Linked DNA regions of Homo sapiens. The protein of the gene in region 1 purifies or fractionates together with the protein of each later gene. This does not show direct contact. Each region holds a gene or a part of one and is shown in the gene's direction. Other genes may lie near its edges. The genes, in order: ZSCAN4, RNF20 and ZNF217.

Region 1 (3,654 bases):
GTCAGGCTGGTCTCGAAATCCTGACCTCAGGTGATCCACCTGCCTCAGCCTCCCAAAGTGTTGGGATTACAGGCATGAGCAACCACACCCGGCAAGTTTTGTATTTTTAGTAGAGATGGTGCCTCACCATGTTGGCCAGGCTAGTCTCGAACTCCTGACCTCAAGTGATCCGCCCTCCTCGGCCTCCCACAGTTCTGGGATTATAGGAGTGAGCCACTGTGCCCAGCCAAGGATATTTCCTAATAGTTCTAGTTTATTAAGTGCCTTTTTCAGGAATAAACATTGGCATTTAAACATTTTAAATGCATTCATTGAGATGATTTTATTATGTTCTTGTATCCATATCCCGTTAACGAAGTAAATTGCATTGATTTTTGAATTTTAACCCAAACTTCCTGCATTTTGGAAATGAACACCATTTGCGATGTATATGTGAGTAGATTTTATTTTCAAATATTTTGTTTTGGATAATTTTAATGTATTTGTAAAATTTTGTTATCAGGAAGTGCTGACCTCAGTAACTAAAGTGGGTAGTGCTTCCTCTTATATGCTCTGGGAGAGTTTATGTTAAGTTATAATTATTTCTTTGAATTCATCCATAGAGCCATGTAGGCCTAACTTTTTGGTTGATTTGTCTTTAATTATGCCAGTGGTGCAATTAATTACTCATCTCTTTTCTATTTCTAGCTTGCAGTTTTAAAGAATCCACCAACTGTTGAAACAAATCCCTAGAGACACAAGGCAAGAGACTGAATCATCAAAGTAAAGTCTCTCTGAGAATTATTGCTAAGAATGGCTTTAGATCTAAGAACCATATTTCAGTGTGAACCATCCGAGAATAATCTTGGATCAGAAAATTCAGCGTTTCAACAAAGCCAAGGACCTGCTGTTCAGAGAGAAGAAGGGATTTCTGAGTTCTCAAGAATGGTGCTCAATTCATTTCAAGACAGCAATAATTCATATGCAAGGCAGGAATTGCAAAGACTTTATAGGATCTTTCACTCATGGCTGCAACCAGAAAAGCACAGCAAGGATGAAATTATTTCTCTATTAGTCCTGGAGCAGTTTATGATTGGTGGCCACTGCAATGACAAAGCCAGTGTGAAAGAGAAATGGAAATCAAGTGGCAAAAACTTGGAGAGATTCATAGAAGACCTGACTGATGACAGCATAAATCCACCTGCCTTAGTGAGTACAGGGTTCTAACTTCTGGGATGAGAGACAAAGGAAAGTAAGGAATAAATCACAGTCAGTTAGAGTTGTCTGGAAGTTAGAGAAGCTATTGGAGGTCCAGTTATTAGTCAGCTCACACTCTCCCACCATTCTCACAAAGAATAATCTTCAATGTCCTAAGTTCTCAAGAAAAAAAGCAAAAAGGTATATATCTGTTTATTCTGTAGGACATATAGGAGCCAAACATATTGATGTTTGATTAACTTAATTTTAGTCTGCATAATGGCAGACTCTGAGAAATTGACTTTTTGGCATGATATCAGCTCACTGCAACCTATGCCTCCCAGGCACAAGTCATTCTCGTGGCTCAGCCTCCAGAGTAGCTGGGATTACAGGCGTGCTCCACCAAGGCCGGCTAATTTTTGTATTTTTAATAGAGACAGCGTTCCACCATGTTGGCCAGGCGGTCTCGAACTCCTGGCCTCAAGTGATCCGCCTGCCTTGGCCTCCCAAAGTGCTAGGATTACAGGTGTGAGACCAGCCTGAAATTGACATTTAAATGAAGACATCAAGGTTGAGGAAGAAATGTCTTGACAAGAGCTTGTTCTTCTGTCAGGGAACTCTAATCAAGAAAGACATTCTAAAGAAGCAATTACGGTAGATCCTTATTCTCAGAGCCCATATTTGCAAAATTGCTAAAATTTATTTGTAAGCTTAAAATAAATACCTGAGGCATCTTCTCCGTCATTTTCAGATATGTGCAGGTGGTAAAATATTTGATTTACCTTAGGTGCATGTTTCCAGGTGAGGTTGAACAAGGCCACAACCTCACTTCCTATTTTGGTTCCTACAGTGTAAATAAGTGTCCTTTTCACAGTCTATTTAGTGGCACATTTTTTTTTTTGCTTTTTATTGATAACTTTGTTGTTTAAAGTGACACTGAAGTAAAATGCTGAAACACTGTCTAGTCTTCCTAAGTGCAGGAAAGTTGCTATGTATTATGGAGATAATACATGTGTTGGATCCTCTGAGTTCAGGATTAATCAATAATATATATTAAATGGGGTGTCTTTGAACATATACACACATAAAACAAACTCATGTATTGATCAGTTGACAAAAATAATGTAGCCAGAAGCTCACAGGAAACTAACCCTGAATTTTTCCTAGGGGAAATGATTCAGTACTTGTAAATTCAATGTCCATGTGACTTTATTAAACATAAGAGCTTGTAGTAACAAGAATAACACCATCAGAGATGGTGGACAAAATATGTGATAGCCAATACTTGAGGGAGCTTGTGAGAGCCTGTTAAGGACCACTTTTCCAAAAAGTCTTCTGTTACACAACAGATTCAGATACAACAGTGATCTGGCTTTCTTTACAGGTCCACGTCCACATGCAGGGACAGGAAGCTCTCTTTTCTGAGGATATGCCCTTAAGAGATGTCATTGTTCATCTCACAAAACAAGTGAATGCCCAAACCACAAGAGAAGCAAACATGGGGACACCCTCCCAGACTTCCCAAGATACTTCCTTAGAAACAGGACAAGGTAAGTCAGGTGAATCTGCACAACTGAGGAGTGTTCTATGTGGACCCCTTCTTAAGTACAACTTCATTGAGTGTCTATTTTCACAGGATATGAAGATGAACAAGATGGCTGGAACAGTTCTTCGAAAACTACTCGAGTAAATGAAAATATTACTAATCAAGGCAATCAAATAGTTTCCCTAATCATCATCCAGGAAGAGAACGGTCCTAGGCCTGAAGAGGGAGGTGTTTCTTCTGACAACCCATACAACTCAAAAAGAGCAGAGCTAGTCACTGCTAGATCTCAGGAAGGGTCCATAAATGGAATCACTTTCCAAGGTGTCCCTATGGTGATGGGAGCAGGGTGTATCTCTCAACCAGAGCAGTCCTCCCCTGAGTCTGCCCTTACCCACCAGAGCAATGAGGGAAATTCCACATGTGAGGTACATCAGAAAGGATCCCATGGAGTCCAAAAATCATACAAATGTGAAGAATGCCCCAAGGTCTTTAAGTATCTCTGTCACTTATTAGCTCACCAGAGAAGACACAGGAATGAGAGGCCATTTGTTTGTCCCGAGTGTCAAAAAGGCTTCTTCCAGATATCAGACCTACGGGTGCATCAGATAATTCACACAGGAAAGAAGCCTTTCACATGCAGCATGTGTAAAAAGTCCTTCAGCCACAAAACCAACCTGCGGTCTCATGAGAGAATCCACACAGGAGAAAAGCCTTATACATGTCCCTTTTGTAAGACAAGCTACCGCCAGTCATCCACATACCACCGCCATATGAGGACTCATGAGAAAATTACCCTGCCAAGTGTTCCCTCCACACCAGAAGCTTCCTAAGCTGCTGGTCTGATAATGTGTATAAATATGTATGCAAGTATGTATATTCCTATAGTATTTATCTACTTAGGATATAAGATATAATCTCCTGATTATGCTTTC
Region 2 (3,654 bases), on another chromosome or scaffold:
CTAAATTTTACAATTTTACTCCCTCATGTGCAATTAATCTCTCATTCATTCAGCTGTCATTCATAGAGTGGCAGTAGGTCTTTACTCTGGTAGGTACTGGGCATATAAAGATGAGATGACAAAATTCCTGCCCTCACAGATCTTGTAGTCTGCAGTAATGGGAGAATAGTATCCATTAGAATGCAATGTGGTACAATGGCAGCATAGCCAAAAGATGTGATACATGAGAAAAGAGTGTCTGATTTGACTGTGGAAGTTTCCTGATTCCACTTAAAAAAGTAAGGTATAAATATTAAGGATAAATTATTGGTAGTTGAAAGTAGGAGAAGAAGAATTCCCGGCATGAGAACAGCACATATAAAGGTATGAGAGAGCATGAGAAATAGTTTAATATGGCTAGAGCTTACGTGTATGTGAGAAAATAGTGGGTAGAAGCTGCAAAATTACTTACATTTCTTAAACAAAAAGCATATAATGGCACCAGTAGATGATTTTTTTAAAAGATAGAAACTTTTATTCATATGTTCATTTCTGTATCTTCCATAGTTTTTAAGGTAATGGTTATAATAGTTGGTCTTTTAATATATGCCTGACAAATGAATTGAATACTATTTTACATATGTTTATATACTGTTTTATAGTTTAGTTCTCCAACTAAATTCTAATATTCTCAGAATTGGTGGCCATTTTCTTTATTTTTCAGTATCCTGTCAGTTTCCAAATTAGTCTTTTGTAGATATCTGGTTTCATTACGTATAGATTGAACTGGAAATTTTCAGAGTAATCCATAGAATATGATGATATTTCTACATTTTAATAAGAATTTTTTTATTGGTTCCTTTATCTGTGTGTAGCGAGATGAGGTTAGTCTTCATAAGAAGCTGAGGACTGAAGTAATTCAGCTAGAAGATACATTGGCCCAGGTCCGCAAGGAGTATGAAATGCTGAGGATAGAATTTGAGCAGACCCTTGCTGCCAATGAACAAGCAGGTATAATGATTCTCACTCCATGCTGTAGTTTGCTCTTAATACCTTCCTTGAAAGATACAACACAGACCCCAGGGTTTGTTAATGCTGACTTCAACTCAGAAGTCATAAGTACCTTAAATCCTATAATTCATTTTGGTTCACAGCCTGGATGTTTGTTTTTTAACTCAAGTTGACCAGTTTTGTTTTCATCTTCTGAGAAGGAATCTTTTATTTGGTAATTCTCCCTATTTCTCAGTGCCTCCTGATGTGTTCTGTTCTTTCTCTCCTTGTGCCTTTGCCCTTACCACGGTTCCTCATAACATTGTTGTTCCTGTATTTAAGGCCCTATAAACAGGGAGATGCGCCACCTCATCAGTAGCCTCCAGAATCACAATCACCAGCTGAAAGGGGAGGTCCTGAGATATAAGCGGAAATTGAGAGAAGCCCAGTCTGACCTGAACAAGGTAACCAGAGGGAATAGAATAAATATCATTTGCTATTAATGTCGTAAAGCTGCTTTTGAATGAGGTCGGCAATGTGGTTATCATAAGAGATGTGCATCTTTCTTTTCTTTATTCTCCCAGACACGCCTGCGTAGTGGTAGTGCCCTCCTGCAGTCCCAGTCTAGTACTGAGGACCCGAAGGATGAGCCTGCGGAGCTAAAACCAGATTCTGAGGACTTATCCTCCCAGTCCTCAGCTTCAAAGGCATCTCAGGAGGATGCCAATGAAATCAAGTCTAAACGGGATGAAGAAGAACGAGAACGAGAAAGGAGGGAGAAGGAGAGGGAACGAGAAAGAGAACGGGAGAAGGAGAAGGAGAGAGAACGAGAGAAGCAGAAGCTAAAAGAGTCAGAAAAAGAGAGAGATTCTGCTAAGGATAAAGAGAAAGGCAAACATGATGATGGACGGAAAAAGGAAGCAGAAATTATCAAACAATTGAAGATTGAACTCAAGTAAGAACCACATTTAGAGTAACAGTTTCGACTGAAAAGCTAAGATTAAGACATCATGCATGAAATGTTTGGTTGATGGCATGGCTTGTCTGATCGTTTTAATGTTTTAGATTGTACAATTAATTTGGTTTCAAGTCGTGTTCAAGTGCACAGCCAAAATGGCTTGCATGGCTATTTAGTACTTTGGTTCAGTGATCGAGTATCAGCAAACCGATGATGGTAGCCTTATTTTTATGAATCCAAATTAAGGAAAAGGATGTCATGATTGAGGTAATACTTCTGAGAATTATTGGGAATTAACTACTGCTCTTCACTGGATTTGAGCAGATTGCTGGCGTTAATTGTAATTTAAATGATATTAAGTGGAGTATTTATATATCACTGTAACTTGAACAATATCTGATCTATTTGCCTGAGAGTTAACTGGTTTGTGAATATGCCATATCTTTCTTAGGAGATTTACTCCTATACACATTGACACACTAAGATAGACCTTTAACTTGTTGAATTTTTCTGTGTCATAACCTTATGCATTGGCCCTTCTCCTGTATAACCAATAACTTCTCTGGCAGAACGGCTTACTTCTTGCTCCTTACTTTCTATGGTTGATCCTTTGTTGATGTTTGGACTTGAGAGACCACTGTGCTCAAAATGCTTGAACTCTTTTGGTATATAAAAGTATAGTTAAGAGGTTTAGTAATTTAATAAGAGGTGAAGTTTTAGTCTTTGGCTGATGGTTAATCACTCAGCTGTCAAATCTAGGATTAACAGTATATCTCAGACTTTCAAATTTTTCCCTTTTATTTCTCCCTCTTGAACTCTTTAAGGCAATTTTTTTTTTTTCTGGTGTGGTATCAGAATCATCTGAGTGACTTGTTTAAATCACTTGTTTAAATTTTTGAACTCCATCCCCAGACCTACTGAATCTCAGTTACCCAGGGTTGGGGGCCACAGAAATTTGCCTATATAACAAGTACACAAATGTCTGTTTTATAACTTTGTTAGAGGACTTTGAAGGGAGAAATGATTCATTTTTATACAGCTTACTTTTCTGTACTTTCTAAGCATATCCAAAAGTCTTTTGATAGTCTGTGCAAAATTTTATCTTTTAGGTGTGATATGAAATGTAAAATGAAACTGTTTTAAAATATTCTGCTCAATCAAAATTCCCTTGCTCTGATGACCTTTATTTTCTTATTACATTGTTCCCCTCCCTCTACTACGCCTGTCATAGGAAGGCACAGGAGAGCCAAAAGGAGATGAAACTATTGCTGGATATGTACCGTTCTGCCCCAAAGGAACAGAGAGACAAAGTTCAGCTGATGGCAGCTGAGAAGAAGTCTAAGGCAGAGGTATTCTAGTCTGCTATTACCTGTCCTTCTGGTTAAAATCTTCATTTGTGGGATTTTCCTTTATACTTGCCAACGATATAATTTCTTTCTTTATCTTTAAAATAAGTGTTTAAGTGCAACATTTTCTGCCTTTTCAAAGACCATCTGAAGTAGAGATTTTAAAACTCTCCATAGGATGGTAAAATATATCTGAATTACTGGGGTTATGAGTAGGCTTTCCAAAGTATGTATTCCTTGTTTTTCCTATGTAATTCATTGCTACAGGGATAATCTTTTTCATTACTTTTGGGAGGAATGTCTTATGCTCTTAAAATTTTGAGGCCTAAAAAAAAGGATGGGAACCACTATTCTAAAGAAAGTTACCTGTGCACTTCTCAA
Region 3 (3,654 bases), on another chromosome or scaffold:
GGTTACGCTACAATACTGCAAATTAATAGTACTACAAGGCCAGTTGCGGTGGCTCACGCCTGTAATCCCAGGACTTTGGGAAACAGCCTGACCAACAATGGAGAAACCTCGTCTCTGCTAAAAATACAAAATTAGCTGGGTGTGGTAGCGCATGCCTGTAATCCCAGCTACTCCAGAGGCTGAGGCAAGAGAATCACTTGAACCTTGGGAGGTGGAGGTTGCGGTGAGCTGAGATTGTGCCATTGCACTCCAGCCTGGGCGACAGAGCGAGACTCCATCTCAAAAAAAAAAAAAAATAGTACTACAGATACTATGAATACTGCAGATACGACACTGTTTTATATTAGGGACCTGAGCATCCATGGATTTTGGTATCTGTTGGCTGGGGTGGTGGGGGCGGGTGGTCCTGGAGCCAGTGCCCTCTGGATACTGAGGGACAACTGTATTAATTTAAAACCAACCTTATTTCCCCCATAGGTAGATTGTTAACCTCATAGATGACTGGGGTTTTCCCCATAGAAATGTGTCCTGGTGGTGTCACTTCGTACAGGTGTCTGGCACATACCTGTATGTGTAAAAAAGTAGCTCAGTGTCCCAGGGACATCTTCTCCTTGGCAAACTCGGTCAAACTGCAGCATCTTCCTTTATCACATAGAAGCTCTACTGGTTTGTGCTCCCCAAAGAAACAGATTCAGTTTTGCACATTTCAGTTTGTGTTAGTTTCAAACTGAGGATTCTGTGTGGTGACAACACTCTGTCAAGAATTGCTTGATGCTGATTGGTTCAGTAGAGATAGCAAATTAAAAAACAATTGCTTTCAGACACTCCAGTAGATTTTATAAAAATTGTGATGAAATAGTAATTTTTACTGCCTTTTGGTTAAAAATCTTCATTTCCCCCCCCATGGTGCTTAAAATGGACATGAATCAAAACTTTGTCTTTACTTAAAGGGGGAAAAGGCTCTGTGTGTTGCAAGTCAGATCCTCTTTTTTTTTTCCCCTCCTCTGTGAGACAGGGTCACACTCTGTTGCCCAGGCTGGAGTGCAGTGGGGGCAATCACGGCTCACTGCAGCCTCGACCTCCGGGACTCAAGCAATCCTTCCATCCTTCCGTCTCAGCCTCCCGAGTAGCTGGGACTAAAGGTGCATGTCACCATACCCAGCTAATTTTTTATTTTTAGTAGAGAAGAGGTCTCACCATGTTGCCTATGCTGGCAAATCCCCTTTTAAATGATTTTAAAAAAAGCAAAAAACAACACTTTTACATAGTTTGGTTCATGATGCATATACGTTTCAAGTATTTTGTGATGTCATTTTTTTCCGGCTTTTTAATTCTTTCTAGTGACAGCCCAGACAATTTTAATGTTAGTGACATCAACCAAATTCTGTGCTAACAAGTGTCATAAAAACAATTCAGCTGTAACTGAAAACACTTGCATGCGACTGTGTGACTTAGGCGTTGATTACATTATCAGTGTCAGAAATTTTGAAAATTGACTTCTAAAAACCTATACACATCTTACCTAATTGTTTGACCTTAACTCTAAATATGTTTTTTTTTTCAATCAGGAAAAAGGCCTGTGTCATATCAACACTTATCTAACAGCATGGCACAAAAGAGAAACTATGAGAATTTTATTGGGAATGCACATTATCGACCAAATGACAAAAAAACTTGATTCACTAATTAGGGGGAAAAAAGGTGAGCATATGTTTCAATTAAAAACACTGGATTGGCTGAGTGCGGTGGCCATTTGGGAGGTCAGGGCGGGCGGATCACCTGAGATCGAGCATTTGAGACCAGCTTGGCCAACATGGTGAAACCCCTGTCTGTACTAAAAATACACAAATTTAGCTGGGCGTGGTGGCGGGTGCCTGTAGTCCCAGCTACTTAGGAGGCTGAAGCAGGAAAATCACTTGAACAACCCAGGAGGCGGAGGTTGCAGTGAGCAGATTGTGCCACTGCAGGTCTAGCCTGGGTGACAGAGCGAGACTCAGTCTAAAAAAAAGGGGGGGCGGGGGCGGGGATTGATTTTACTTGATCGGAAATAAACCATTAAGTTGTCTAATATAATGTAACAAAATTGCTTTTAAGTTGGATTTTGATTTTTTAGGTGTTTTAAAATTAGAGTCCTCAGGATCTTTGGATATTACTGAAGATAATAGGAAAACAGTCATAGTGACTGGAATTTACTGAGCATTTACTTTGTGCTAGGCATTGAATGAAGTGTTTTATTATCAGGATCTCATTTAATTCTGTTGCAGCAGAGGGCTTAGGTAAGGGATGAGCAAACTAGCTTTTCATGCATCATCATCAATAAAGTTTTATTGGAACATGATCATGCCCATCTGTTACATATTGTCTGTGGCTACCTCCTTGCTGCAGCAGCAATGTCGGGCAGTTGTGACAGACCACGTGGCCTGCAAAGCTGAAACTATTTACCGTCTGGCCCTTTACAGAAAAAGTTTGTGACCCAGCATTAGGAGGTACTGTGCATGCTTTTCAGATGAGACCGAGGCATGGATTATGCAGTTTGCTCAAAGCCCCGCTCTGCCTGTGAGAGGCAGGAGCCTGGTTTTTGTCCTAGGTCTGCAAAGATCCAGGCTCTATGCCCAACGTTCTAGTTTAAGAACTTGTTCAAAGACTTGGCAAGTACTTATCTGCCAAGATAAGTACTTATCTGCCAAGGAGGGGAACTGGGACAGGAGCAAGTATGTGAGCATGTGGTTCACATGTTAAAGGTCTCACTGTAGTGCACCGCCGTCCCGTAAGGCTCAAGTAGTAGTATCAGAATTATGCATGTTGGTTTTGTTAGTTTATATTTAGTTAATTAGTTTGGGCAGAAGGTGTGATGTCTGTGTACAGGTTATACTATGACTCATTCAACAATAAGATTAAATGGAAAGCTTGGGGCTCACGGGCAGATTTAGTTGTTCCTCAGGTAACTCTTGTCCCGTAAAACCGTCACTGTATATTCGTTGAGCAGCCTCTTCACCAAGTGCCTGCTGGCTGCTAGGATACGAAGATGAAAAGATGCTCGTGGTCCAGGACAGAATTTCTCTGTCATATTTTCATCGGGACTCATATGGGAACTGAGATGACGTTCTCCCTGGGCAGCGTGAGCCTTGTGTGGTTCTGCAGTCTTTTCTCCTGCTTAGGATAATAGATGAAGAACATGAGGGAGTAAAGCTTTGTCATCACAGGAATAAGATCCAGTCCACTCTATATTAAAACATAAAAATAATTTATGAATTATGAGGAGCAGATTTTAGTAACAGGTTACTCGAAGCATCCATTACAACTGATCAGTAGTAGCAAACAGCCATGCTCCTGTATCTGGAGCTGGTGTCTCTCTGGGAGCTCTGAGCTTCTCTGCTTGTGTTTCCTTCATCTGGAGAACATCCTGCCTGCTCTGTCTTTGCTTTCCAGCCTCTTCTTTCTCATCCTCTGGACCAGCTCACATATTGGTTTTGTTTGTCTGAGACAGGGTCTGGAGTGCAGTGGCACGATCTTGGCTCACTGCAGCCTCAAACTCCTGGGCTCAAGCAGTCCTCCCACCACAGCCTCCTGAGTAGCTGGGATTTTCTTGTGCATGGCAACTGCCTTTTACTGAATTCTGATTCTTGGTTAAGTCATCTCAGTTAAATTACTAAA

The links.
Region 2: the proteins of ZSCAN4 (region 1) and RNF20 purify together in Homo sapiens (affinity purification with western blotting, with the first as the bait; one study listed by BioGRID). This does not show direct contact.
Region 3: the proteins of ZSCAN4 (region 1) and ZNF217 purify together in Homo sapiens (affinity purification with mass spectrometry, with the first as the bait; one large-scale study listed by BioGRID). This does not show direct contact.

Annotation. Positions count from the first base shown.
Region 1 is NC_000019.10:57,675,354-57,679,007, forward strand, and holds part of ZSCAN4 (zinc finger and SCAN domain-containing protein 4), read left to right. Parts: intron 1-687; 5' UTR 688-792; coding exon 793-1,188; intron 1,189-2,560; coding exon 2,561-2,726; intron 2,727-2,812; coding exon 2,813-3,552; 3' UTR 3,553-3,654. UniProt on the Homo sapiens protein: Embryonic stem (ES) cell-specific transcription factor required to regulate ES cell pluripotency. Binds telomeres and plays a key role in genomic stability in ES cells by regulating telomere elongation.
Region 2 is NC_000009.12:101,550,830-101,554,483, forward strand, and holds part of RNF20 (E3 ubiquitin-protein ligase BRE1A), read left to right. Parts: intron 1-854; coding exon 855-990; intron 991-1,311; coding exon 1,312-1,433; intron 1,434-1,553; coding exon 1,554-1,924; intron 1,925-3,158; coding exon 3,159-3,276; intron 3,277-3,654. UniProt on the Homo sapiens protein: Component of the RNF20/40 E3 ubiquitin-protein ligase complex that mediates monoubiquitination of 'Lys-120' of histone H2B (H2BK120ub1).
Region 3 is NC_000020.11:53,569,768-53,573,421, reverse strand, and holds part of ZNF217 (zinc finger protein 217), read left to right. Parts: intron 1-565; exon of another isoform or gene 566-774; intron 775-1,568; coding exon 1,569-1,678; 3' UTR 1,679-1,701; intron 1,702-2,918; exon of another isoform or gene 2,919-3,150; intron 3,151-3,654.